Linked DNA regions of Homo sapiens: regions 1, 2, 3, 4, 6 and 7 are each linked to region 5. The links come from fine-mapping of genetic effects on gene expression. A gene starts in region 5. Each other region holds a variant in brackets. All regions are shown on one strand. Distances are from middle to middle. Region 1 overlaps PRR5L (proline rich 5 like). Region 2 overlaps PRR5L (proline rich 5 like). Region 3 overlaps PRR5L (proline rich 5 like). Region 4 overlaps PRR5L (proline rich 5 like). Region 5 holds the start of PRR5L (proline rich 5 like). Region 6 overlaps PRR5L (proline rich 5 like). Region 7 overlaps COMMD9 (COMM domain containing 9).

The links.
Region 1: its variant is fine-mapped to the expression of PRR5L in whole blood (TOPMed, PIP 0.99).
Region 2: its variant is fine-mapped to the expression of PRR5L in whole blood (TOPMed, PIP above 0.99).
Region 3: its variant is fine-mapped to the expression of PRR5L in whole blood (TOPMed, PIP above 0.99). The same link has a PIP of 0.9 or more in blood mononuclear cells.
Region 4: its variant is fine-mapped to the expression of PRR5L in whole blood (TOPMed, PIP above 0.99). The same link has a PIP of 0.9 or more in blood mononuclear cells.
Region 6: its variant is fine-mapped to the expression of PRR5L in monocytes (Quach 2016, PIP 0.95).
Region 7: its variant is fine-mapped to the expression of PRR5L in pancreas (GTEx, PIP 0.96).

The regions. Positions count from the first base shown.
Region 1 is chr11:36,318,430-36,322,496 of GRCh38, reverse strand. All of the region lies in intron 1 of PRR5L (proline rich 5 like), which reads right to left. Among named protein-coding and RNA genes, the nearest start is that of PRR5L, 24 kb to the right of the region's middle. The variant C/T (reference allele first, on the strand shown) is at 2,304.
Region 2 is chr11:36,406,648-36,410,714 of GRCh38, reverse strand. The region is part of intron 3 of PRR5L (proline rich 5 like); the gene reads right to left. Among named protein-coding and RNA genes, the nearest start is that of TRAF6, 100 kb to the left of the region's middle. The variant A/T (reference allele first, on the strand shown) is at 2,348.
Region 3 is chr11:36,419,184-36,423,250 of GRCh38, reverse strand. It overlaps PRR5L (proline rich 5 like), which reads right to left. Exons shown (of 9, transcript NM_001160167.2): 4 at 3,948-3,996. Among named protein-coding and RNA genes, the nearest start is that of TRAF6, 89 kb to the left of the region's middle. The variant G/A (reference allele first, on the strand shown) is at 1,796.
Region 4 is chr11:36,454,250-36,458,316 of GRCh38, reverse strand. The region is part of intron 8 of PRR5L (proline rich 5 like); the gene reads right to left. Among named protein-coding and RNA genes, the nearest start is that of TRAF6, 54 kb to the left of the region's middle. RefSeq lists an enhancer at 2,542-3,066. The variant A/C (reference allele first, on the strand shown) is at 2,137.
Region 5 is chr11:36,293,767-36,297,833 of GRCh38, reverse strand. It overlaps PRR5L (proline rich 5 like), which reads right to left and starts at 1,546. Exons shown (of 9, transcript NM_001160167.2): 1 at 1,396-1,546.
Region 6 is chr11:36,360,339-36,364,405 of GRCh38, reverse strand. All of the region lies in intron 1 of PRR5L (proline rich 5 like), which reads right to left. Among named protein-coding and RNA genes, the nearest start is that of PRR5L, 66 kb to the right of the region's middle. The variant G/C (reference allele first, on the strand shown) is at 2,244.
Region 7 is chr11:36,270,410-36,274,476 of GRCh38, reverse strand. It overlaps COMMD9 (COMM domain containing 9), which reads left to right. Exons shown (of 6, transcript NM_014186.4): 6 at 1-2,185. Among named protein-coding and RNA genes, the nearest start is that of COMMD9, 17 kb to the left of the region's middle. The variant G/C (reference allele first, on the strand shown) is at 2,192.

The DNA of each region.
Region 1 (4,067 bases), 25 kb before region 5:
GAAATGGTATGACCAAAGTACGGTAGGCAGATAAAAACAATATCTACAACAGTTCACTCTAAACCATAAATCATTCTGTTTTCTGGTGTTGTATATATTATAAAATTCATTTTGGGAGGCTCACCAAGAATTTATGGTGTACATATTGTTGGAGATATTTTACTGAGATACTTTAAAAAAGTAGATACCCTGAATTACTGGTAACATCTACTTTAAGCCCTTTCTAGGGAAAAACTGTCAGGCACACAGAAGATTTTCTGACTGCTGAGATAATTTCATTGATAAAAGAGCTGCCTTAATCTCTGAAGCAGTCAATGTAGGTTCATTTCAAAGAACATTTTTGAAACAATTAAGAATTATAGATATGTACAAACTGTTCAAAATAGTGATTCTGAGGAGTAGACCTGAGGGCTGGGGAGACTGTTATGGGTTGATTACATCCCTCACAAGCTCATATGTTGAAGTCCTAAGTCCCAGGAACCTCAGAGATGACCATATTTGGAGACAGAGGCTTTGAAAAAGTAATTAAGATAAAACGACATTAAATAAGTGGGCTTTAACCCCATATGACCGGTGTCCTTATGAGAAGAGATTAGGACACAGACACCTGCAGAGGGAAGGCCCCGTGAAGACACAGGGAGAAGATGGCCATCTACTAGCCAAGGAAGAGGCCTCAGAAGAAACCAACCCTGCTGCACCTTGATCTTGCACTTCATCTAGACTCCACAGTGTGAGAAAATAAATGTCTGTTGTTTAAACCACCCAGCTTGTGGTCCTTTGTTGTGGCAGCCCCAGCAAATTAATACAGGGACTTAGCGACAACACGGAGGATTAAAGCAGAGGCGGTGAACCCACGCTGATGCCTAACCTTTGCCAATCTTTGTTTCTTTCAGGGCATGCTGCTTCTGTATTCTCAGGCATGCTGTATGGGCACTGCCAGCCAGCTTCAGAGATGGGTCCAGGTCCTTTTAGACATGTTAGTTGATGCCCAACCTCTAGGGACACAATTTCTTTCTGCAGTGGATTCATGACCTAACCTGGGCAAATGAGCCTTGAGAGGACATATGCTAGAAGCTCATGGAAAAGAAACTTTCTTGCTTTTCTGAAAAAGCTACTGAGAGAGCCCCTTTACTCTTTCTACAGGATCTGGAGGAGGAAGCAGGCAGGCCCTGGGTCTACTGGCAACCATCTTGTGATCATGAGTTGAGACTATATTACCAGGAAATGATCCCTACAGAAGGCAGAGTGCAGAGAGGAAGAAAACAATCTGAGGACATTATTGAGTGCTGTATTAAGCGCAGCAAATTACATGGGCCAATAAATACCTTTTCTTTCTTAAGCCTGTTGTTATAACTGAATGCATCCTACTATAATGGTTAGAAAATAAAATATTTTTAAAATAGGCCTCTGTTACTTTTTTAACTTTACAGAAATAACTAAAAGCAAACAACAACATCAAAACTCAAAGAATTATTTTTTAAAATTCCATAATAAGAACTGTAAAAAATAGGAGAAACTTTCTTTCTAACAGGAGCCTATTTCTAGAAACCAATTAAATCATTACAAGTAATAACAATTTCTCTTTACAGAGTACCACATGCCAAGCCATGTACTAAGCATATTATATGCAGTATCTCATTTAATCCACACAACAATCTCAAGAGGGTTCTATAAATATCCTCATTTTACAGATGAGGAAACAAAGATTCCAAGAATTTAAATAATTTGTTTAATGTTGCACAGTAAGAAAAAGACTAAACAAAGATTGAGTCCTGATCATCTAACTCTGAAACACCTACTCTATACCAGTTCACACTCTGCCTTTCTAAGCAAGTAGCATGCATAGCTCTAATCCGTACACCACCTTACCAGGTAGGGCTTACAGCAGATGAGGAAATTAACACTCACAGACATTATGTAACATGAGGGAGGTCCCACAGCTAGCTAGTAATTATACAAAAAGATAAGCCACAGGGCACAGAGCGTCGTCTCAGAGATTAACAGGCAAGATGATGAATACATGGAAAAAGCCACCAAAGCTTGGCACTCAAAGAGCCCTTAAAGATTCCCAGTTCATAAAAAAAAATTAGCTGCGTGTGGCGGCAGGCACCTGTAATCCCAGTTACTCGGGAGGCTGAGGCAGGAGAATCGCTTGAACCCGGGAGGCAGAGATTGCACTGAGCCGAGATCGCACCACTGCACTCCAGCCTGGACGACAGAGTGAGACTCCATCTCAAAAAAAAAAAAAAAAAAAAAAGATTCCCAGTTCATCACCTTCTTTTTGTTCTTGAAGAACTGAGACC[C/T]AGAGACATTTCTTATCTTGCCCAGGGCAACACAGCCAGTAGGGGCAGAGGTACGACGACACAAGTCTTTGTTAATCAACATGTTTTTCTAATACACAAGACTGCCTTTGATGAACTGCATTTGCAGGGCACCTGCTGAATACACTTGATATGGGAACTTTTTCCTGTCTTAATGGAGTAGATCCAGCCTCCAGTACCTGTTTGTCTTAATAGAGTCCCCTAATTTTCCCTACAGAAACAACCTCTTTCCTCCTGCGTGCAGCCTTGAGAGGGCTGGTAAATCCCCCTCCCCTGGACATGCGACTTCAGTCACAACAATTGAAATTTCTCTCCTGGGAATTTGTAATTTGTCTATGCTTTATTTTGATAATAAATCTTTGTTTTCCCCCAAGGAATTTGGAATCGATTTCCATTGTCCACAACCTAAGAACCTATAACACTTAAGGCCTTTTTCAGTTGCAAGTGTTAGGAAACCCAAGCCAAATACACTTAAGCAAAAAAAAAAAAAAAAGGAAATTTAGTGTCGTCTTAGATGAGGGATCTACAAAGTATTGCTCTTGTGCCAAGCCCTCCCCACAACTGCCTGCCTTTGTAAGTAGTTTTACTGGAACACAGCTAAGCCCATTGGTTTATGTATCACCCATGGCTTTTGTACTCCAATGGTAGAGACCAGTAGCTGTGATAGAGACGACATGACCCACAAAGCCTAAAGCCCTTACTATCTGGCCCTTTACGGGCAAAGTTTGCCAATCCCTGACTTAGGTAGATTAAAAGTCAGGTGCCGCTAGATCAAGGGACTCAGATGACATTTCTAAAACCCAATCCGTCCATCTCTTGGCTTCTGTCTGCTTTCTTCCTTGTGTTAGCTCTATTCTCAGGCTCTTCCCTGTGGTAATAAGATGACTGCATCAACTCCAAACCACATCTTCTCAGCTTCATCCTGTCCACCAGCAAATAAAAGTCTTGGGCCAGGCCCTCACTGGTCCTAATCAGCCTTTCACTGTGGTCCCAGGGATGAGACTTGCTGATTGCTTTAAGCCAATCACGATTAACTGCAGGAGCTCAGAGTGCTTGCTTCTGCTCCTAAATTTCCTTTATCCCCTTTATTTCATACAGTGCCTACTCAACAGTTAATAATCCATTTTATTCCCAATCAGGAGAGAAAAAAGTGATGAGTATTAATGGATTCTATTATTAAAGAAAGCCTTGATATGTGATTTAGTATTAGGACCTTTCTAGTAAAAAATCGAGAAAAGTCAAGGAAATCAGTTCTCATCAGGCCAAGCTCTCATGAACAGCTTCCTTTGTTATGTTTAAGCCTCTGACATTTGCCACATAATTGAAACCTTCTTTTTGGCCTTTCCCTCCCATTTCCCTTCTCTCTCACCTGTCCTGTGATCCAACTTTCTCTCAATTTCTCTTCACTTTTCCAGATATCCAGGATCCTTCCTTGGCTATACTCCATGGCTGCTCAAATCTCCGTCTCCCTACACTACCTAACCTTTCCCCTGAAATCCTATCCTAGCACAAATTTGTGCACTCCAAAATTTCCTCCTTTTCTTTTCTGCACCAACCACTTGCACTTTTAGTTAGATGCTAGACAAGCAAATAGATTAAACTGAATTACATCAAAATGTCCATCGTGATTCATAGCTAACAGTAGCTCCACATATCCATCCCTCTCAGGCATGTTGAAAATGAGCCCAAACGAACACCAACTGGCAGGACTTCGCAGATTCACCAAGTTTCAGGGTTGGAAGGAAA
Region 2 (4,067 bases), 110 kb before region 5:
TCAGGACATGGAGTACTCACACCCTTCGGGTGTCGGCATCCTAGTGGGTGGCAGTGGGAATAGTGAGAAACATGGAGGAAACTGACGAAGAGCATTTATTGAGCTCCTAGTTATGTGGCACACTATGCTCGGCAGTCTGCACACAGAATCTCAAATTCTCCAACAGCCTCACAGGTAGGAGTGTATCCTCATTTTGCAGATAAGATCGATGCTCAGAGCTTTGCCAGGGGCCATACATTGGTAGATCCCAACTCAAATGGAGGCCAACCTAATCAGGCAGTGGTACCCCCCATGCCACAGGGGCAGGCAGGCAAAGAAGGGAGGCAAGTGAGTGTGTACTGTAAGGACCAAGAAAGTCCCTCTAAAGCCAGCAGCCAGGCCTCAGCTCCCCTGACAGGCTCCACACCAGACCGTGAGTCCAGTGCCCAGATCTGACCTTTCCAGAGAGGCCGGAAACCTGGAGTTCTAGGTGAGATGTCCAGATTTCTAAACAACTTTTAGGCCAAACCACATGCGCCAACCCCATGGGTTTCCAATCTGCCATTTCTAACAACCCTTCTTAACCTGAAAGCCAAGTCTGTTTCTCAGCCACAGCAGGTACAAGGTAGTAACACATCATCAGGCAGAGTCACCCAGACCAAGAAGAGCCCTCATCTTAATCCCTCCAAAACTAGGCTCCTCAGAAGGGCAATGCCCCCCTTACCTCATGATCTATTCATGAACCTATGTCCAGGTACATCAAGCCCAAATCTGGATAATGCCAGCTCTGTGTGGCTCTTGCAGCCCACTTACTAAGGGTTTAAGCATGTGGGAGGCTTGGGTTCAAATCCCAGCTCAGGCACTTACTGGCTACATGACTCTGGGTGAGTTATTCCACCTCTCTGTATCTGTACTTCCTCCTTGTAAGACAGGGATACAGTATCTATCTCACAGGGTGTGGGGAGTTTTAAAAGAGTTGACACATATGAAGCACTTGGAACCTGGCATATACTAAAAGGCTAAGCAAGTGTCTGCAGTTATCATTACCTCGTGGCATCAGGCCTGGGACTGGTCTATGGCATCAGCCTGTGAGCTGGATCCAGGCTCACCTTCCTCCCGTCCCCTCCCAGCTCTTCCCCCCTACTGTGGGTCCCCCTCTCTTACAGTCAACACTCTGTTAAAGAGATGGAAAAATCGGAGGTGGATTTCCCTTTGGGTTTCAGGCAACCAACTGACTCAGAAGGAAGATATTTCAACTCAGACCTGTCAGAGATCAAACACAATTCTTGGAACCTCCTCTTTCCTTGAAAATCTCTGGGGTTTTCTTCACACCACCTCCCCCCTCCCAACAAGAACAGAAGCAGGGTGGTTGGAGAGAGAAGGAAAATGTGCGTTTCCTGTCTCAGGCCGGCTGCAGATAACTGATCTCTGGTTTCCGGAAACTTCATCTCTGAGCATTTATTTCTGCCGAGAAAAAGTCCTCCCAGGGAGTTTGAGGAGGCAGGAGGGCATGGAGTGAGTGGTGGTGGCAAGAACGTTAGATCCTCAACTGCCCTTTCTGCCTGCTCCCACTTCTGATTTCAACTTGGATATCATTTTCTCCTAGGTCTAATTGTGTGCCCATCCTCCACATGCCCCCAGCACTCCAGATTCCACCATCACCCCTCTAAAAGCGTTGCCTGAGAACTACCTGCCCAGTTCCTCTCTCATTCTGCTGTAAGATCTCCAAGACACAAACCACCTACTCAATGACCACCCCAGTATACAGCCCAGTACTGGGCAGAGCACTCCACATTTATTCAATAAATAAATCAATGAATCAATGGCCCCTGCTTCGACACACACACCCCAACACTCAAAGACTGAAAGCACTTATAAGAACATTGGCAAGCAGGTTCTTCAAAGAACCAGCAAACATCAGTCTTGCTTTTTTCACACTTTTCTAATTCTTCTCGGTTACATAAAATCAGTGGGAGAGGTGGCAGAAAAGACTGTTTAGGGAGAGTGTGCTCTTGTGTCAGCTTAGCTGCTCTTGTTCTTGGAAGGGCTCATGAAACCCAAACCTCTAACCCAGACTTTTCCTCGCTGCCAAAATGCAGCCACATCAGGGGTGAGGCTGGAGAGGGGTGTTAAAAACCGCACTAACACCCCATTGAGAATTCAAAACAAGAAGACTCCCAGAATCAGCCCGAACTCTGGCAGATGGAAATTTAGGGAAGCCAGAATTGTTGATTGGGATGCCTGGGGATTTAGCTAGAATACGTCTATTCTGAAAGGTCATTTTCTTGCCTTGAGAGATATTACAATGTGCAAGCTGTGCCTAAGGCAGTTTCAATGGGAAATATTCTGATTTATGGTTTTCATATCA[A/T]TAGACCATGTGCCCTGACTTTTACATGGGACAACATTGGCCGCTATATTGAGGTGAGACGTTTCTGATGGATTTTTTTTTTTTTTGAGACAAATTCTCTCTCTGTCCCCCAGGCTGGAGTGCAGTGTGGCACGATCTTGGCTCACTGCAACCTCTGTCTCCCAGGTTCAAGCGATTCTCCTGCCTCAGCCTCCCAAAAATAGCTGGCTGGGATTACAGGCGCACACCACCACACCTGGCTAATTTTTGTATTTTTAGTAGAGTCAGGGTTTTGCCATGCTGGCCAGGCTGGTCTCAAACTCCTGACCTCAGGTGATCCACCTGCCTTGGCCTCTCAAAGTTCTGGGACTACGGGGTGAGCCACCGCACCTGGCCTGACAGATTTATTCTTAAAGGGTGGAGAAACCTGTCTTTGGATCCAATACTGTGTTTTAGAATTTGACCATCCTCAGTCCCAAGTTCTTCCTCATAATTACTTCAAAGTCTATCTGCTAACATTTAAACTAGAGTCTATTTTCAAAGACATGTCTTAAATGGAAAGGCCACTTATAATAATGACTGCATTACAAGACTCAGTTACATAAAACATCTACCTTCCTAGTCATCCTTTGCATTGGCTACTATTTAAATAAATTTGTATTTCCCAGGTACATACTAACCCTACAGATAGAAAGTGGCCAGGGTGGCTGGGATGAGTGACCCAAAGAATCTGATTTAGGCTTTGACTCCAGACTTGGATACTCCATCAAAAAGTTTATTACCATTTGGGTTCAGTAGAATGGAGAACTGAAAAAGTCATTTCCTCTTGTTCTTTTCTCTGTGGAAAGGAGAAACAGCTGGCTCTCCTTGTAAGAACTTAGCCTCACCCAAACTTCAACTCCAGGCACCACTCTTTGAGGATTCTGTCCCAGACTCTCTAGTTCAAAGTGAGCTCACCTCATCCAAACTGCTGGAGAAGTTTTTTCTGAGACAGGATCTTGCTCTGTTGCCCAGGCTGGAGTGCAGTATGCATCATCACGCCCAGCTTTTCATTTTATTTGTATTTTTTGTAGAAACTGGGGTTTCATTAAAGCTGGTCTCAAACACTTGGACTCAAGCGATCCTCCTGCCTCAGCCTCCCAAAGAGCTGGGATTACAGGTGGGAGCATGACACCTGGCCTGGAGAGGGTTATACACAGCACTATTCATGGGGCAATTCATCACGTTGGCCTGTGTTCTCATGCCTCGTACTCACCCATTATGTATCACTTTACTATTTCTTAACTGTTCACAGTAATAAGAATCATATGGCTAATATTTATTAAACCTTTATTAAATTACCAGACCCTGTGCTAAGGATGCTTTTAGCATTATCTCAATCCTCCCAATGACCATGAGGTTAGTGCTATTATTATCCTCATTTCATAAAAGACAAAACAGACTTAGAAAAATGAAGTCACTTGCCCAAGGTCACACAGCTAGCCCAGTCTTGATCCCTGGTCTCTCTGAATCCAGAAACTGCTCTCTTTGGTTAAAAATTTCCATTAAACTTAGCACAAACCCTCTTGCATATAACAGGACTGTCACAACTGAAAAATGGGCTGAAGAACTGAGGCTTCTCTGTTTGCACATCTCTTTCTGACATCCCTACCATCCTGTGCCCCACCCTCTCCACCAATCCTGCCTCAACCATGTTGAGTTGATAGATCTGTTCTGCAAACAAGTCTTCCAAAAGGAAAAT
Region 3 (4,067 bases), 130 kb before region 5:
ACATACATGCACACAAATGTATCTCACACATTACCAGGTATCCATGACCTATTGACAACGGTAGTAGCTAAGTTTCCTCTCTTCCTAGTATTAACCCATTCAAAGCCACTGACTCTAGCCTGAGTTTCTATATCAAGCAAAACTCCAGTTCCAACAAAAGGAATTGAACTTTCTGGGCTTGGGGCAAAAGCTTATAACACACAAAACAAAGCCAGTAGATACAGAATAGCAGAAAGTGCAATCTGCAAACACACCCATGCTCTGAACCACCAAGATACCTAATGAGGTAAATAGGAAAATCCAGAACGTTTCATATCATCAGTTTCAAAAATTACAAGAAACCAATTATCCCTCAGAGCTGTTACTAGTATATAGTGTTTCTCTCGGAAACCCCAATTTTCCTTCCGGACACAATTCAAAACAGAGGGAAAGGGAAAAAAATCAATACTGGAAATGTCAGAGACTTTTCCAGCCAGTGCCTTATGGACGTGTAGCTGGGCTTCTGCAGATCACACAGCTTGTCTTCTCTGTGTGCAGGCATGAGATAAGCACAATTTTCCTACCTGCTTTCTCTTGGCCTCACCTGGGGTCATTTTCATTATTCCCCACTCAGGACATTCTGTGTTAAGACTCACAGAATGTAAATGAGAATGTTCGCTTTCAAAAGCAGAGCCACAGAAAGGGCTGTATGAGTGGCAAGCTCAGAGTTGGGGGTCAGGGTGAGGAGACAGACTTGACTGCTGAATGCAGATGTCTAGGCATGGCCATCTGAGCCTCTGCAATGCAGAGCCCAGCACCCAGGAAGCCCATCTTTCACCTTTCCCAACAGCCAGGTCCATGGTTTTGGTGACTTTCCTGTCCACCCCTGGGTTCCATTCCTCATCTGTCTCCAGGCCTTCCTTCTGCCCCTTTACTGGAGGAACACACTTTCTGGAGTTCCTCCTGACTTTCCCTCCTGAAACGACATCTGACAGTCAAATGTGAAGGCTAAGCTCGCCTCTACAAGCCTTCCCTCTGGGACGTGTCTCCTTATATGGAGATTTCTTCTGTAAAGTGAATGGTTTGAAACCAGCCCATTTTTAAGCAGTGCCTGGTAATGGGCTTTCCAAATCTGAGTCTCTGTTGAACCACCTGCATGACTAGGGCCAGAGCCAGGGCCACCTACATGATTATTCTTTGCATACTATTTTTCTTATATCAATCCACTTTTTAAACAAGTAAATACGTTTAAAACAGAAACCACAGCAACATAATTTACACTAAGTGGAATGGAACTCAATGATCAACTCAATGCCAACAAAATAATGTTAAGAAATCCTAACTAGTCAGCATCCCTAGCTGAAGACACTAAGTTCGAGGACTGCTCCTCCTTCTTCAAACGAGGGAGATTTCCAAGTCCTGGAGGAGGGGAGAGGACACCATGGTACAACTCAAGATCCTCTCTAGCACAATCCCAAGGGCGAAAGGAAAATAAAAGAGGAGAGCAGTTTCTAACCACAAGCCCTAATGTTATTTAATGTCATTGCACGCATCGCCTAAAATCATTTCAGTGATCTGTGGCAGAAAATCCCTCCCTCTCTCCCAGGAAGGTTTACTGAGTATCTACTTTGTTCCAGGAACTTTGTAGGGAGTGGGGAACCAAAAGACTAAAAAAGAAAGAAAAAAAAGCTGTGTGCCCACATGACACTTAAAATCTATTAAAAAAAGAAAAAAACAAAACTGTATCTAGGAGAGCCTTCTTTCCAGATCAGCACCTTAAATAAACTTCGATTTAAAACTGTGAAAACTAGTTCTC[G/A]CCCCACACCCCAGCAAGAGATTCTGTATTCACAAAGCAGCATTTCTGATTATGTTCCCGGTAGGAAATGACAAGTGGTTATTAGTTGTTAAGCATCTGGCATGCTTCGTAAGCAGTATTAACCGCCCCCAAAAACCTCAAGGCTTCCCAGATAAACAAGTCCCCACCCAAACACCCTTTCCTATCTGTCCTAGGGGTAACCCCCAGCACCAAAAGACAAATGACATTTAAAACCTGATTGAAACCACACCAAACCATGGAGCTTTTAAATGTCAAGGAGGAAGGCAATTCAACCCAGCAGGTTTCTCCAGGACTGACTGAAAAACCACTTCTCTGTAGTTAGCTTTAAAAAAAATCAATCAGTAGAGACAGCAAGAGAAGAGAGTGAGGCCAAGACTGACCTTTGAGTCAAGGGTGACTGAAATGATTCACATTTGTGACTAATTATCTCTCTCTTAATCTTTATGTTTGTCTCTCCCTGAACAGGAGCTGTCTTCCAAGCAGCTGAGACATATGACCCGATTGAATTCCAGGCTTCTGTTGGGTCTTGGTTTGTCCAGATTTAGAGGAGCTGTCCGTGTGTGTGTGTGTGTGTGTGTGTGTGTGTGTGTGTGTGTGTGTTTAAACAACTGACATGTCATTCTTTTAAAGTGCACATAAAAGTTTAAGCTTCCTGAATCTCATAAAGAAAAATTATAAAAGGATGCCTGTACTGTTTTCAAAACCTAAAATCTCTTTAAACTGTCTTAAAAGTATGCTCTATTTGGACACAGAATAACATTGCTAACTTGAAACCAAGATGTTAGGCATTTCATGCTACTTTCCCATTAAAAGAGATGGATTACACCTTAGAATAACACATAGGCACTTATATAAACTTAATAAGCACTTATTACTGTCTTACTCTCTGCTAGTCACTGAGCACTTTTTATAAATAACTTATTTAGTCTTCACGACAACCCTATAAGGTTTGGTCCTATTACTGCTGTTTCACAGAAAAGGAAATACAGAGAGGTAAAGCAACTTGCTCAAGGTCACATAGCTAGTAAGTGGCTATGCTGGGCACTGAACCCAAGCACTCTGCCTCTAAAGGCTGTGATCTTGACCACTACCCTATACTGCCCCCCTACACACTACGTACAGAGTGCTTTACATGTGTTATTTCACATAAAGCATATAATAAACTTTTAAGGTAAGTTGTATTTTTAGTCCCATTTCGCAGATGAGGAAACTGAGGCACAGGGAGGTGAAACAGCTTGCCCACTCAGCAAATGAGTGAGAAGTAGGGATTCTGACTTCACTAAGGTGCCGTCCAGTCAGTGACTCCTTGTCACTCAACACTCCCCATTCCCTCTCCACCATATGCCTTTGGTTAGAGTCATGAAAACAGCTTGCGTCTGTGAATTAGAAACTATCCTCTGATTGGTCCTGGAACCTTAAACTCACTAGCTTTATACCAACAATGTATAGACAGGGGAGAAGTCTGACTGATCCAGACAATGGATCCAGATGTGGTATGATTCAGGGTCCCCTGGGGGACCCCCACTACCCAAACTCTTTCAAGGGATCCCCATGGTCAAAACTATTTTCTCGGTAATACTAAGCTATTTGTTTTTTTCCCTTACATTCTCCACGAGTTTACAGTGGAATTTTCCCAAAACTACGTGGCATGCAATATCATTACAAATTGAAAGTGAAGCAGATATAAGAATCCAACTGTCTTCTATGAAGCCAGACAATGCAGAGATCTCCTTTCTATTTTATTCTGAGTTGTTTTTCATAAAAATGTAATTAGCACTAGTATGTAATAGGCTTATTACTTAAATACATTAAGACATATTTTAAAGCTCTTCAGGTTTAATTTCTATTATGGTAAAGATAGACATAACCCAAATAAGCAATACGTTTTACGAGTGTAAAGGGGTCCTGAGACCAAAATGCCTGAGAACTGCTGCATGAGACTGTGATCTCCATTAACTGCTGGGAGACACAGGAGTGGTGCCCCTCTGCAACGTGCAGCACACAGCAGGGACTTGAGATACGTAATTTTGTCTGTTGAAGGAATGTCCAACTGTACAGTATTGGCCACCCCTTTTAGGTCCATGCCCCCACATGCATGATAATGATGGATGCTCAGATCCACACAGCTTACCTGAAAATAGTCTGTAATGAATGATCCAAGTTCACTCTTCAACAGCCGCCTGGGGAGAAGGGAGAAGAGAAACACCGTCAAGCAGCCCTTGATGGTACAGCTCATGGTGACAATGTGCTC
Region 4 (4,067 bases), 160 kb before region 5:
GGTTCTAGATGGCAGTGCCCAGACTTTCCCCACTACACGCTGCTGTGTCTCAGGTGACTGCTGCTGCCCTCAGAAGACATGTTCCTTGAAGCAGCCCACCCACTGAAGTCAAGTAATAGCAAACACTGCCCCCCAGCAGATGCTACACAAGAAGCTGACACTGGCGCCCCTCTTTGGAGATAAGAGACAAAACGCCAAGGAGCAACCAAGAATACACCAGGCATTGGCAGCGGTTCTTTCTGAAGCATGGATGCTCGTACTCTCCAAGTTACACATTTCTATAATGTTCCCACATTCTTATAATACCTGTATTACTTTTATGATCTCCAAAATCAATAACTATAAAACAGAAGCACCAGAAGAGTTCAGAGCAGCAAGGATCCCATTGAAAAACTGTCCTTAAAAAAAATGCCCTTGAGAACAATTCATTTCTCTCTCACTGCTGATAGAAGTACACACTTCAGATTGCTGTTGGGAAACCCATGTGGGGACCTGAACCCTACAACCAGTCTAGCAGGAGACAGGACGAGACCTGTTTAGGGAGCATTTGCTTCATGCAGATGTCTGGGCCTCTGAGACTGGGTACCTACCTGCCAGGAGGGGTTTGTGCAAAGGGGAGGGTCAAAGAGGTAGACAGTAGTGACATTATTTCTAATGTTGCTAGAGATTTCGATGTTTTGTTTTGTTTTTTGTTTTGTTTTTTTTTTTTTTGAGACGGAGTCTCACTCTGTTGCCCAGGCTGGAGTGCAGTGGCGCGAACTTGGCTCACTACAAGCGCTGCCTACTGGGTTCACGCCATTCTCCTGCCTCAGCCTCCAGAGTAGCTGGGACTACAGGTGCCCACCACCACACCCAGCTAATTTTTTGTATTTTTAGCAGAGACAGGGTTTCACCGTGTTAGCCAGGATGGTCTCGAATTCCTGACCTCATGATCTGCCTGCCTTGGCCTCCCAAAGTGCTGGGATTACAGGCATGAGCCACTGTGCCCGGCCTCGATAATGTTTTATAAGAGTATGGGAGACTCCTCTCTTTGGGGAAGGGGTATCTGGAAAGATACAGTATTAATGTTAGATTTTATAACATGGCTGAAACTTGGAAGAAAGGCTGGGACCAGAGAAGACAGAGGGTAAATCGAGAGAACAGGAAATCAACTTGCTTGGCAGACACATGCAGCATCTTTGTAGGAAATGAGAATTCGTCAGATGATTTCCGCAGGTCCCAGCCCACTGGGATGAGCCAGGGAAAGGTGTCTCCAGTGATCCTTGGAGGGCCCAGGCAGCAAATGGACAAGAGAAGCCACTCTGGCTGCTCACAGGCCAAGAGCTGGAGCCAGAGGGGGGCTGCCCTGGAGGAGGAGACCACAACACCACCTGTCCCCACCTTCAACAAACACTACTACCTGTACATGCAAAATGCTGCACTAGCTGCAGAGAAGAAAAGAAACATAAATCTGATGTGGGGCCCCCAACAGGGGCTTGAGCCCAGCACACTTGTGTACCTCCATGCATGTATGTTCACATGTCAGGGGCACGAGTTCTTAGGAGGAACTATTTACTAAGCATCCATGATATGCTAGGTACTGTACCAAAAAGGAGGTGCTCCACTGATGGCTTCTAACCACTTCGCAGAAGAACCTGAAGTTGAGATGTGGAATAACAACAGTCATAGTTAGTGATGAAACCAGGACTCAAACCCAGAGCTGACAGCACAGGCCCAGCTTGTGACCCACATACACAAATAACTGTTAGAACAGGTCAGTGTGGCAAATGTCAGGTCAGAGATAGAGACGACAGCACCCTGGAAATTCAGAGGAGAAGGAAGAGAAGTCACAAAGCCTATTTCAGATGGGCTGTGCTTCTCTAGGCTTGACTTACAGACTGAACCACTCACTCACAGGAGAGGTCTGTGCCAGGTCCTGGGATACAAAATCCCTGCTCTCAACGAGCAAGCTCAGTGTAAGGGAGAGGCTGAGAAATAGGACATGGCAATACAGCAAGGCAAGGCCAAGGATGTGGTTTGGGATCCAGGGGAGGGATTGGGGAGGTACACACAACCTCCCCGGGGAGTGATTCCACGGACGCCAGGCCACCTTTAGCTGGGCGTCCATAACATAGCAGGCAGCTCTACCTGGCCCTT[A/C]CCTGAGACAGGGCAGCTTCTTCCTCCTGCTGATCCTGAATGGAAGGACAGGGCCTCTGTGCTCAGCCCTCTGTGGCTCAGAAGTTGCTCCAGGCCACACAGCTGAGCCCCAGCTCTCGTGGTTTCCAAGGCCCTGCTCTCTCCACAGCTGCCTCAGCCTCTCTCCCCCTGCTGATGACTCACAGGAGAGGCTACAGCTCTTCCTTCTACTTTCTGGGTGGAATGTTTTCATTCCCAAGATTGGGTGTGGGCAGAGCCAGGACCACAGGGACCGCAAGGCTGTGTTGAGTCCCCCGGGCAGACAGCGTTTCCTTGCTAAGTTCCCGCCAGACTCCAGAGCCAAGCCTCAGACAAGTGCGTCAGCTGTGTCCCCACTGGGAGGTCAGGCCTGCTGGGCCCCTTGGGAGGCCTTAAAACTGAACGCCAGGCCCGGGGCTGGCAGACAGCGACCGACACTCTTGCTTCTTGTTCTCCTCCCCAATCTTTTTCTTCTCTGCTCCCGGGAAGGCAGGGCCCTGTCACCCAGGGAAGGGAATCTCCCACTAAGGGACTGATTACCCTGTGGGTACCCCCTGGGGCTCCAAACCAGCCCTTCCCTTGCAGTGGTGCCCTTTTAGCGGGAAGAGGGCCGGGTCCTGCCATTTCAGCTGGCATCTCCAGGCCACCTCTGCCTCCTCCTCTTCCCTTTCACACGGGGTGAGGCCAAGGGGAGGCTTTATTCCCTCCTCACTCACCAGGAGCCCTGCTGAACACTGGCATTCACTGGCATTCATCCCCTGCACCGGAGCCAGCAAGAGCAGCTCCTTTCAAACCCCCAGAGAGATGCAAAGCCTGGATAAGGCCGTCCTCGGGTCCTTTGTTGGGGACTTGGTTCCCAGGCTTTTGATCTCCCAGGCTCCCTGGCCAGGCCCCACCGGAGCGACCGCCATAATAAGGCCATTGTGACCCCAGCACACCAAGCCCGTGGTGGGTGTCCCTCTCCAGGCTGGCACCTGAAAGCCGTGAATGCTGGCTTGTCACGCAGAGAAGCTACAGTATCCTGAAGGAGAAGGGCCCTCCCCCAGGCAGACACAATGGAGGGAGGCCTGTGGGAGGCCAGGGCCTTTGTGTGGGAGAAGTCGAGCGTGCTGCTGAGTGTGTGCTCGGGAGGGCCCTGCAAACATCAGGGAAACAGCCTGGAGACTTCGGGGACTTGAAAGATGGGGCAAAGGCCAGCCTCTGAGGAGTCGGCCTTTTAAAAAAAAGTTTCACTATCCTCTTCCTCCTCCCTCAGCAACTCCCACTGTTGCAGAAAAGTGGCTGCTTTGGAGAGAGCGGCACGTTCTCTCTCACTCTCATCGTGGGCCTCTGACCTATGCGTACCCAGGGGTGAGGCCTGGCTGGCAGGAAGGGACACCTCCGGAGAATCCTCGTGCAGTCAAACACAGGCGCGGGCGCGTGGGTGCAGTGCGGAGCCCCGGGAATAAACCGCTTCTCTGGCTCTGGTCACCTACCCTGCGGGTGACCTGGAGACTGAAAGCACAACAGTACCTTGGAGGATGGAATGAGTTACGCGCCAAAACCCTGGTCAGTAATCCAGCGTGAGTGGTGGCTTCTGAAGGGATGAGTGGCCCCCACACCCTCCGCTGCCTACGACCACGCCTACCTATCCTCCGGCCCAAGTGAGCCACGGCAAAGCCCTCCCATAGGTAAAGGGGTTTATCACCCCCAACCCAACTCCTTAGTTTTTACTTCAGCCAGCGATCTCAATGCTCTCCTCCCACAGGCAAAATAAACCTTTTACTAAGGGGTAGACGGAGGCCCTGAGAGACCTCTCTTTATCTGGAAAGCAGTGTCCTCAGTCAGGATGGGCACTGCTGTGACCATTTTAGCTTCTTAGTATCCAGAGACATGGGGTGAAATGTCTGGCTTAGGATCCCTCTTGGGCTAAG
Region 5 (4,067 bases):
GAAATGAGAAGCCAACCACAGACCCCCTTTCCAAGCTGCAGGCCCCACTGGAGGAGGGAGAAAAGTCTCCACTGGGAACCAAATTCAAAGATCTGGCTGATTCCCTGGGACTGGACATCCCAATTGCTGAATGAGGCTGTGCTGGAACTAAAAGCGACTTAAGAACTTTTGATTCCTGAAGGGGGCCCATAAGAGTTGTGGACCTACCTTAATTTTCATCCCAGGGCAAGGGAAGAGGGAGGACCTGCTGAAAAAAATTAGGGACAATGATAGGCAAAAATAAAGTTTGCTTCCATAATATACCATGAGTCCTGTGTATTTGACGTATGTTCTCTTACATATGAGGCAACTTAGCCTGGTCTCTGGCCAAAAAAGAGATACCACTCATTGAGCAATTCTTACCCTTTCAAATTCCTTCACTGTCGTCATTGAGCAATTCCATCTTCTTCAAGCAAGACAAAAGCTGATGCCAATAGAAAAATCATTTAAAATAAACAAACGAAAAAATTCCTTAAGCTGTCAACTTGGGTGCAGATGTTCTATGAAGCCAGAAACTGAATGTCACCCTCTATACACCATGACCTAGAGAAGCAGAATAACTCCAGACCAGCAGGGCTGGGCGGGTCTAAGATTCCCATACTACTTAAGAGAAAACTGAATTCAAATCCAGGCTCTGCCATTTAACAACTGTGTGACCCCGGGTGAATGACTTAAATTATCCGTACTTCAATTTCCTCATCCATAAAATAGAGATCATAAAGTATCTATCTGATGAAATAGCTGCAAAACAGTTAGAATGCTGCCTGGCACAGGGCAAAGGACTCACAATACACATAGCTATCATCATATATCATTGCCTCTCAAAGTGAAATATTGTGATGACCTTGGTTTATTAGCAGGATGTTGTAAAAAAAAATGCTTTACAAGGGGCATGATGACGAAAAGCGCAGATTCTAGAACCCGACTCCCTGGGTTTGAAAGAAGCAAGAATCTGAGGCATGTTGTATAAGGGTTTGCTATCATTACTATTCATTCAATGAGAGACATACAGTAATAGGTATACATATGCAATACATAGAGAAAGAGCTTAGTACTAGCAGCTATTATTAAGGCAACAGCCACCTCAGTAAATCTACATGGGCCATGAAGACCCTGGTCACCCAGAGATATCAGAGGCACTGAACAGGGCCAGACAGACAGAGGGTATTTTTCTAACTGGGAGGCTGCTGAACTTGACCTCTGTTGCTTTTCATTATTTATTTAACAGCAGATGGTGGCTTTCAAGAAAATCGGATGTCTTGAAGCCAGAAACCCATCCTCCTTGGGCTGGATACTCAGCCATCCCCTGCAACCCCACCCCCTAGCCCCAAGCTCTCATTGTCTCTCTTGTGTTACCTGGTCTGGTTTCTTCTTCCAGGGCAGGTCCCACCTTGCTGGGGAGAGGTGAATGACCATGGCCTTCCAGCCTCCCGAGAAGGGGATGTTCCAACGGGCGCAGAGATCTCTGGGCCTGGCTTGCCACTCACTGACCTGGGGCCTGAAGACTGACAGAGAAGCAGGCAGAAAATATAAAAAGCTGATACCCCCTGCAGGAAATCATTGTTTAGCCCATTCCAGACTAAAAAAACAAGTGCAACATTGGAGAAAGGAGGGTAAAGTGTCATTCGGGGCCATTGTTACAGCGGCTGCTCTGTGTGGTGGGGAAACAAAGCAGGCCTGTGTATGTGAGGACAATGCTGTTGTGTTACTAGCTGCTTCTGTGTTACTCCTGGGGACAGGAGGATGAGAAACGAGGCCACAGTGTCTTCCCTGGTGGACTTCACTCATCATAGTAGCCAGGCCAATCAGAGCTGGGAGAGGAATTTTGGACATTTAGCCCATGGCATTATGTAATAAGGGTCAGGGGACGTGCCTTCAGGTGTGACCACCTGCCTCTTTGTTAGTCTTCTATACATGAGAGATCACAAATGTCCCTCTCCTTTTCTCTTACTTGCTTTCAGAAACTTACCCCAAGTTAGAGCTGAAAAGAATGAGACATATCATTTCTCTAAACACAAATGTCATCCACTTCAATGCCTAACTTTTGTGATGGGACATCTGGCTGGGACTAAACCTCAGCCATGCAGCACGTTAGCAGCAGTTGGCAAGACTAGATGAATATTATAAAGCTTGCACCCACTGAACCCCCATAATGAACCAGACACTAGGTCATGAGCAACCTTGCAAAATGACCTCATTCGCTCCTGACTTCAAATTCTGACTCTGCAACTATTACCCATGGACTGTGAGCAAGTGTTTTCTCTGGGTGTTAGTTTTCCCATCTGTAAACCGGGATTATGATTGGGTTCCTAGGAGGATTAAATGAATTAATATATGCAAAACTCTTAGAACAGTGGCTGGCCCATAAAAGTGATCAAGAACCACAAATCACAAATTAGATGCCCACATTACACCTGAAACTTGCTTGTACTCATGAGGAGATGGTATGGGGATGGCTGGAAAGCCAGGATCCCAAGTGTCTGTATTTAGCCCTGTTACCTACTATGGCCTAAGTTCACCCTGTTAGGTCCCTGAAGGAATTGGGCACTAATAAATATTCTCAAGTATGAGACAGGTGACAAATGTGTGGAGAGGGCCCACTGTGATGCAACAGTGTGTGGCGGGAACTGTGGGGATTTGAAAGCTCACACCAGTCTTCAGAGGGCAGCCAGGGCTCAGCCTCAGCCAAATACTGCAATGCAGAAAGGTGGAAACAGCATGGTTGGGCCTGCACATTTTTAAAGAAAAGCCAGAAGGCTGGATTTTTTATGTCGAGTTTTCCAATTTTGAAACACTGTGGACCAAACACAACATTGTTAATGCAATGTGAGCCCTAGATCATGCAGTTTGTGATGCCTGATCTGGAAATTTCCAGATTTCCAGCATTTCCAAGCCAGTGCAACCCTGCTGACACTCAGAGCTTTTGTCCCCAACTTGCGCTACGGTCTGAGTGTATGCGTCCCCCACAAATTCATATGCTGAAATCTTCACCCCCAGGTGATGGTATTTGGAGGTGGGACCTATGGGGGGTGATTAGGTCATGAGTGTGGAGCCCTCATGAATGGGATTAGTGCCCTTATAAAGAGGCCCAAGAGAGCTCCCTTGCCCACAGCCACCATTTGAGGACACAGTGAGAAGACACCATCTGTGAACCAGGAAACCGTCCTCATCAAACATAGAATCTGCCAATGCCTTGGTCTTGGACTTCCCAGCCTCCAGAACTATGAGCAACACATTTCTGTTGTTGATAAAGCCACCCAGTTTATGGTATTTTGTTATATTAGCCCATATGGACTAAGACGACTGGTGAGCTGATCAGGCCACGTCAAAGCCACAAAGGGGGCATAAAGTCAAAAAGATTGATCAGCCCTTTCCCCCTGCAACCCACCCTCATCTCTGGACTGAGACAAAGGTGAGGAAAAGGGAAACTAGGGGAATAACAGGAGGGTGGCAAGGGCTCTCCTTAAAGGACTGCAGGACCCTGGGCCTAATCCACCTCCTGCAGGCATTCCTCTGACAAAGAAGGCAGCCAGGACTTAGTAGTGAAACCAAAGGGGAGAATAGGAGTTTATTTAAGCTTCCATAACCTTCATCAGTTACCTCAAATGAACCAAAGTAGCGTAAGTGACAAAATGTGTTTGCTATGCAAATGCACCTTAAAAACAAGACTGCTCACAATGAGATACCACTTCATACCCGCTAAGATTGCTATAATCAAAAAGACAGAACCAGTTACAAAATGTGTTTGATATACCAATGCAACTTCAAAACAAGACGGCTCACAATGAGATACTACTTCATACCCACTAGGATCACTATAATCAAAAAGGCAGAGCCAGATGCAGTGGCTCCCATCTGTAATCCCAGCTACTCAGAAGGCTGAGGCAGGAGGATCGTTTGAGGCCAGGAGTTTGAGACCAGCCTGAGCAACATAGCAAACATATGTTTTAGAGACAAAACATATTTTTTGTCTCTAAAACAAATAAAATCAAATTAGCTGGGTATGGTTGTGCATGCTTGTAGTCCCA
Region 6 (4,067 bases), 67 kb before region 5:
ATTTGATCCCCAAATCTCTGCATTTAACCTCTTTACTAAATTCATTCCCTCTATCTAATGACAGACCTCACGAGAGAAGGAAAGGACAAAGGCAAGTCCCATTCACAGTTGGATAGTTAAATATGTGTATTAATTTAACCCCCAAAAATGTTTACTATGCATAGCTCTCAGCACATCACAAGTGTCAACTCATTAATTCTCCTAAAACATGAAACAACACTATGAGCCCAGTGCAATTATTATTATTTCCATTTCACAGATGAGGAAACTGAAGCACAGAGAGGTAAGTAACTTGCCCAAAGTCACACAGCAAATGGCAGAGCTGAAATTCACACCTGGACATTCTGCCCCCACTAGTCTGTGGGTTTAACCACCACAGAGTGCAGCCTGACAAGAACATGCAGGTGCCTTATTTAAAAGTGAAATACCCTCCCAAGACCAGTGGCTAAAAATGGTCTCTAAGAGGAAGGCAGAGCCATCTGTAGACCTGGAAATTAAACAGGGCCATGGAGCTTGAATGACTTAATCACTGTTCAATTTAGATTTCCTGGTTGAAAGGGTTCCTGTTCGTCCTACTGGAAATTAACAGCCGATTGCTTCTTGGCATTCTTGTGGGAGGGGTGGGCCATTTTCCTCTGGCCCAGCTGTTTCTGGAAGAGTAAGTGCCTTGCCAGTGTCAGGCAGGTACAGAAAGACTGGTAGGTAAAGGGGACCAGATCCCTTTGTCAAGTGAGCTTAGCAGAAATCAGTCAACTCCTGCTTTTTCTGCTGGTCTAGGAGCTGGGGCCCTTCCTCCACTCCTTGCAGGAAACCTGCCCGGGGGTTGATTCATCTCTCAAAGGCGGGTCAGGAGGAAGGGGAAAAGAAAAGACAAGAGTCAGGTCATTTATTATCAGAAGGGGCAAAAGAGCTTCTAAGGAAGCGGTGAGGAGCTGTAACCACAGCATCTGCAGAAAAGGCATTGAGCTATTAACAGTGAATTCTGCTTAGTACAGTCAATCTGTCCCCAGCTAATCTGGAAAGAAAGATATGAGCTCCCAGAGGTCAAGGAGTGATGTCTGCCCTCACACTTCGAAAGCACTCCAGGAATATATTTTAAATAACTTGTGTCATGAATGTAAGTTAACAGCAAAGAATTGGGCTTACTTTTCTCCTGGTCCATAAATATTTGCCTCTCTTTCTGTCTCCTGGTATGATGCAAAGAATGGTGTGTGGAATCTTGACCACAGCCTCATTCCCGGCCACTCTTTCCCTCTCACCTCATCCTATGCCCAGGCACACTGAGATGCCTGTGGTCTGGGAAAGGCAGTAGTTATTGCACACAGGTCGAGGGTGCAGAGACAAACCAGGCTCAGGCCTGGTCCAGTGACATAGCCATGTGAACCTGGGTGCACGACTTAACGTCTCTGGGCCTGGAGAACCTTGTTCTCTTTCTCCCCCTTAGAAATACCCACTTCCCCTGCAGGAGCCAGGTCAAAGGGCTGCCCTGCTCCTCCATCCCAGGCAGGCTGCCCAAGCACTCAGCACACACACCACCCCCCAGCCCCCACCCATGCAGCATTTGCCTCCTCTTGTTACAGTGATCAGTTTACCTGTCTGTCGCCACTCACAAATTATAAAATCAATGACAGCACATTATTTATCTTTGAATCCCCAATATCTAAGCAATTCCTGGGCTATAACAGAGAATCCATAAGACCTTTTATGGAAGGAAGGAGGAAAAGTGGAAGTGAGAAAGGAAAGATGGGTGGAGAGAAGAAGGGAGGACAGACATAATTGATTATGCTTTCAAACAGAAACAGCAGGCATGGTGTGAGAAGTGCTAGAAAAACATTCTTTCCCCAATATGTCAATTCTGCTTGCCCAGTGTCTAAAACGTCCTTTTTTGGAGATTTGTTCCTGGGGTAAAGATACTGTCTCCGGTTCTCCTTGTCATTGTTTCCCACCAACCACCGCCCCCGTCCGCCCACCCCCACCCCGCCAAGGGTGATGTGTGAAACTGTCAATAGCCCAGCACCTTAGCATTCACTTGCAAGATAGATTTTCTAAAGACAAGTGGGGAAAAGGCACGTCAGCACTTTGGTGCTAAAAGTGAAGGAATAGGGTCCTCAAAAAGGGAAGGGAGGGATCCGTTTCAGTGAGTCAGAGTCATAAGAATGAGAGCATGCGATTCCCATACCCACCCTGCCCTGCCCTCCCATCAGAAGCATTCTCCCTTGCCTACATCACTCGGAGCAAGTTCT[G/C]TTTTCAGGACGGAGCCGGTGACCGGTTCGCCAATGGAAGGCAGGAGTCTCTGGTGACTGCCTGCTGCTTCCGTGCTGACAGAATGTCTTTTTTTTTTTTTTTTGCCTTTTATGTACTCATTTGTTATTACTTCAGCACCCCCCGACTTTGAACTTGGTAAGGGAAAAGACTCTCTCTACTAGCATCCTCCAAACTGAAAGGACCCTCAGAGGTCACTTTATCCAACTGTGCCTCATGCTGGAATCGTCTGTATCACCTCTCCCAAGCCCCTCGAGGGAAGAGAGGCTCGCGATCTCTCTTTAACAGCCATTCCATTTTAGAAAACCACAAGAGTTAGATATAACCTAGAACCTGCTGCTCTAAAACAAAGGAGAAAAACAAGTAAAAACAAGTGACTTGTGTTAGGTCACACTTAGGAAAATTCTGCAGAAGTCCAAGGGTAATGAAAAAGGTTGTCTCTTTACCTCATTTTTTTCAGTAGACATTGATTTGCCCACATAAATGAACAAGTATAAGCAAACACACTATCGTTTGATCACATTCCCACAATGATTTCTTTCCTCTGGTAGAAACAGTAAATACCTAGAGATCAGTGACTCAAACTTTTTGAACTCAGTAACCCTTTAAAGTCTTAGAAATTATTATGAGCCTTAAAGTCTTTTGTTTTTATAAGTTATATCTGTTGATACTTAACATATTAGAAACTAAAACTGAGAAAATCCTTGGTTATTTATTAATCGATTTAAAAATAATTTTAAAAGCCATTACAAATTAACATAAGTAATGTATTTTTATGAAAAATAGCTATATTTTCCAAAAGCAAAAGGTATATATAGCAAGAAAAGTGGCTTTGTTTTTTATTTCTGCAAATCTCTTGAATATCTGGCCTAAGAGATCTGGATTCTCGTATCTGCTGTGCACTTAGTCTGTTGCAATACCAATGCCATGTCACCTCCGGAAAACTCCACTGTATACTTGTGTGAAAATCAGAGTAGAAAAGGCAAATAATATATTAATGTTGTTAGTCTTGTTAAAATAGTTTTGAGCTCATGGACCTCCTAAAAGGATCTCAAGCAACTAAGATGAGTTACATAGGTGGGGACCAGTGCAAAGTGAAAGTGCTGTTTCTTGTCCAAAAGTTATAAAGCATTTCAAGACAGCCACAGCAGAACATTGAACTGAGCTCTGAGCATGGGGCCCTGCGTGACTTCACAGTTCCTGCAGGCAACTTCAGGGGTCTCTGACCACATGTCGAGAACTGCTGCTGTAGAGTTATACTTGCTTCTTGAATCAAATGAGTGGCTTAAGACAATTAGTGTACACCAGGGTGATATCAAGTTAGGAGTGTGTGCATGTATGTGTGTTTGAGCTGCTGGATCACCAGGTGTAAGTGTTCTTGAGTAATAACATATACCTAACAAGATAAAAGCATGACTTACACAGATTTTCCCCCTGGGTGTATATCATAAAACCTTACCCTCTTATTCAGCCTATTATTCCACACTGACCCTAAACATACACACACACATGCATTTATGCATGCACACACATACGCCTTGAGCTGATGGCTTGCATGCATGTGGGTGTGTGTGTTACATGTGCGATGTTACATGTGCACATACCCCTTTGTGTTCCAAATGGCTGCACACCAGATAGTCAGATATTTGTCATGGTTTCCTGTTTTGGGTTTTTATTGGGTGACAGGCTTTGATCAGCAAAACTGACATCTCTCGTCCCCATTTTCCTGTTTGGTACCTTATACATAGTAGGCACTCTAAGCATTTGCTGAGTTATATTTTATAACTCTGGTGGTTAGAGAAAAT
Region 7 (4,067 bases), 23 kb after region 5:
GGAAGAAGCAGCCAGATCCCCCGCTGTTCTCACTCATCTTCTTTCTCTTTCTGAAGCTGGAGAGCAGAAGCCCCCATCTTTGAAAAGCTCCTGAGTGCAACTTAATTACCACCATGGCAGGGTGAGGGAACATTTGCATCGTCAGCTGCCTCTGCATAGCTGTTTGAGAAATTCAGGCCCAAATCATGCAGCCTATCCAATAAGTAAGTTTATTTCCAACATTAGCTCTAATTAGTTCATTTCCAATCCCAGAACACATGGAGGGAATCGGACAGGTGATGCCAGCAGTTCCTGCTCCTCTGTCAGGGAAGCCAGGCAGAGCCCACAGAGCATGGTCCATCCAGAGTGTTCCCTGAGCCCCCTCCACCATACTGGAACCCCTCTTCAGTGTAGGAAGTCTGAAATGGGTGCTAATTCCCTTCTTCATGAAACCAGGGCCCTCTTCCTTCATCTAATGCAGCCACTCCTAGGTGAAGAAGTGGGAATAATTGGAACTAAACAACAGTTCTAAAACTTCCATGATTTTTGTAGCTTCTTTTGTCCCCAAGTTGAAGCTTTTGGCCAGTACCTTCTCTAGTTTTTAAAGATGATCCCAACTTCCTAATTCCCAGCTAAGCCCTTGACCCATGGTGTGACATGAAATCAGGCAATTGAATCGCACCACTTTCTGTGTTTTCACCTGTTACGTAGAACAAAAGGAAGCAAGGTGGCCAGGCGCAATGGCTCACGCCTGTAATCCCAGCACTTTGGGAGGCCGAGGCAGGCAGATCATGAGGTCAGGAGATCGAGACCATGGTGAAACCCCATCTCTACTAAAAATACAAAAAATTAGCTGGGCGCGGTGGCGGGCATCTGTAGTCCCAGCTCCTCGGGAGGCTGAGGCAGGAGAATGGCGTGAACCTGGGAGGCAGAGCTTGCAGTGAGCCGAGATCGTGCCACTGCACTCCAGTCTGGGTGACAGAGAAGGACTCGTCTCAAAAAATAAAAATAAATAAAAAGGAAGCAAGGCTAATCATCAGTATGTGCTTGTTACAAGAGCTATGATGAAGGCACTCCTTCGAGTTTAACCAAATGAGATCATCTCTGTCATGTGCCTCACGCCTCACAGGGACTCCATGTGTGAAGATTCCCCCTTCACTCACCAGATCATCTCCATGGCAACAGCTTGCAGCCTGCTCTTGGAGTGCTTTGTTTTGGCAGCTTCTCTGCTAGTTTGTGTATGGAGTGAATGGAGGAGGTAAATCCACAGATTAAGAATATGCTGTCAGGAGTCAGGCAGCCAAGGTCAGAAGCCAGCTCTGCTTCTCAGTGGTAAGGTGCTTGACTTCTACATCTCAATTTTCACCCACTTTGTACTTTTTTCCTAAATTAAATGAGTATAATAGTAGTACCTACTTGATAGGACTTTTGTGAAAATTAAATGATATAATGCACCTAAAAACAGTACTGTTACAACTAATAGGAAAGGCTTTGATTATTAATGGATGAGAGTAGAAAGCTTGGTGCATTTATTGTCTCATCTACTATAACAGAGTTGGTGTGAGAATTAGTATTATCATCCTCCCTTTATTGACCAGGAAACCAGCTCATTGAGATTGAGTCATCTGCTGGTAAATGGTCTCATTAAGAGGTGGACCCATATTTCTCTAGCTTTCTCTTTACAACACAGGACTTTGCAAGGAACATATAATTCTGTGACTAGCGCCATTTGGAAAATGTTGAAACTGAAGTAGAGATGAGAGATCTTACGTCTGCCTACCCAGTGAGATACGAGGAAGGTCAAGGGAAAAAAAATTCCAAGCTCTTCTTTATCTGCTATAGGAAATGAACATTCAATTTTTTGCATGCAACGACAAGAGGTCAAGGACCCCAGAAGCCAGCCCGCTACTTCCAAGTTGAGAGCCCCTGGTCATACCCTCCAGTTGAGCTCAGATTTGTCACAAATTTACCCCTCTCCTTTCCTTCCATTCCCCATGACCTGCAGAGAGAGATGTCAGATACCTTCCTCTTGGCCTCCCATGGGCATCCATAAGAAACTTACTTGAAGCAAGAAGCCCAGTATAGGTGTCTGGGCAGTTGGACATTTCCTCTAGCCAGATCTGTCCGAATAGAGCCATCTGGGTACATGACGCAGAGGGCATTTGATAAATAACTGGAAAAGTCAATAAATCTTTGCTACCCTTCACCTCGT[G/C]ATCATTTAAGGCATTTGTTTTCCTCTGTTAGTGATGATGGATTGTTTGTAGATACCGTATTTCTGGTTGGCCTGGCCCTATCTCAGAAGGGCCTCCTGGCTCTTATCTGTTGATCTCAAAGGAAGTTGGCTCATTCACTGCTTGTCTGGTTTCCCAGTAGTACTTTGTGTGATGAAGCAGCTGTATACAAACTGTCCTTCCTCAGGGTGTGGCAAGGTTTGGATGTCCAAACTCCATCCACAGAAGGACAATGATCCATCTCACTGGTGCCTGTGCTGGCTGCCCAACACATCCCACCCAGCCACCCACCAACAGGGGTCAGCATCTGCCTCAATCCTGATCAAATGCATGTGCCACAGCGATTGTCTCATGAATGTTCATGATTCCAATCAGCCAATCTGAGTCTGTCCCTGGGGCTTTCTCTGCTGTAATTTCTGAGACCACCTCCTGCCTCTAGGCTCTGACAGCCAGGCCAGTGATGATGAGGTCCATCTTCCTGCCACACCGAAAGCTCATCTGCAGTCGGAGAGGCCATCTAGACCCCAGAGGTTGGGAAGAAGATGAGAAAATCTTGGTACCTGATGCCATTCCCACTCTTCCTCCTTATGTATTCATCAGGACGGACCAGGCTTGTGTTAAGGTGTACCCGGGATTTGTTTTAATCAGGAATGGCAAGACTCACAGGCACAGAGGTGATTGTCATGAGGAAGAAGTCTGTGCTCACAGAACCCTAGAAACAGGAGGCATGGCATGCCACGTAGGGCCACATGGGGAAGGACCATCTCTCTGGGGCTTTTGGGGAAGTTGGAAACAGGTGCTCTTTTTCCTTCCCGTTGATCATTAAACATTGAGTCCCTCGTCTCTAGGGAGGGGACTTCTTATTTACCCCTGGGTTGGGAAATAAATCATGACAGCAGCAATCAGACAACAGCAGAGAAGTGTGTGATCTGAACATCTGTGGGATGCCGTGATCCCTGGAGGAGCCCTTCACACTGATCCCATGAATGGCCCTCAACACATGCACGAGCAAGGAGCAAGCGTTCCGACAAGTGCTCTCGCAGTACTCCAAGGAAGAGGCTGAAATTTGACTCAGCAAAGCCCAGAGGGAAAAGGGAAAGTGGTTTATGAGTGTCCTCAGGAGCTATCACATCCTAGACACTAGGCACTTTCATCTAAATGACTCTGATGACCCCAGTGTTGTCAGTGCTCCTCAGTCAGTGGATCAGACTTGCCCTTGGCATGAGGAGGATAGTCAGTCACTCCTGGTCCCCTTCAGAGGGACCTTTTGAGAAAAAAATATAGCCAATTACTTATGTAACCCCAGGCACTCTGTCCTGAATCCTGGGCATTCCACCACCGTGGAGAAATAGGTTAGTCCCAGACACATGACACCAGCCTATGAGGCAGCTCCGGGACTCAGCTGCTCGAACGAGCGTCGCAATTTCAAGTTGGGAATTAACGGCAACACCTGACAACACAACACAATGCAGTAGCCATCAAGCAGGAAGCCCGAGCACTCCACTCTCAGCTGTACCTTGCCAAGCAGTGGCTGCTGTCTGTCGGGAGCAGGTAGCAAGTCAAGATCAGTCTAAGGACATTCCATGTCCATCTGGCATCAAACCACCCTGCTACCTATGCCAGTTGTTCTCAGGATTTGTTTTAATCAGGAATGGTAAGACATAAGGCACACAGACGTGGAAATGATTATCATGAAGGAAGAAGTTTGTGCTCATAGAGCTCTAGAAGCAGGAGGTGTGGCACACGGGGCCACATGGTTCGGAAGGATAAGTGTTGGTCAGGAGGCAGGGAGAGGGGAGAGCATGGCCCCAAGCCTTTATTGGGGTTTTCATAGGAAGGAATGGTTAAGACAAGGTA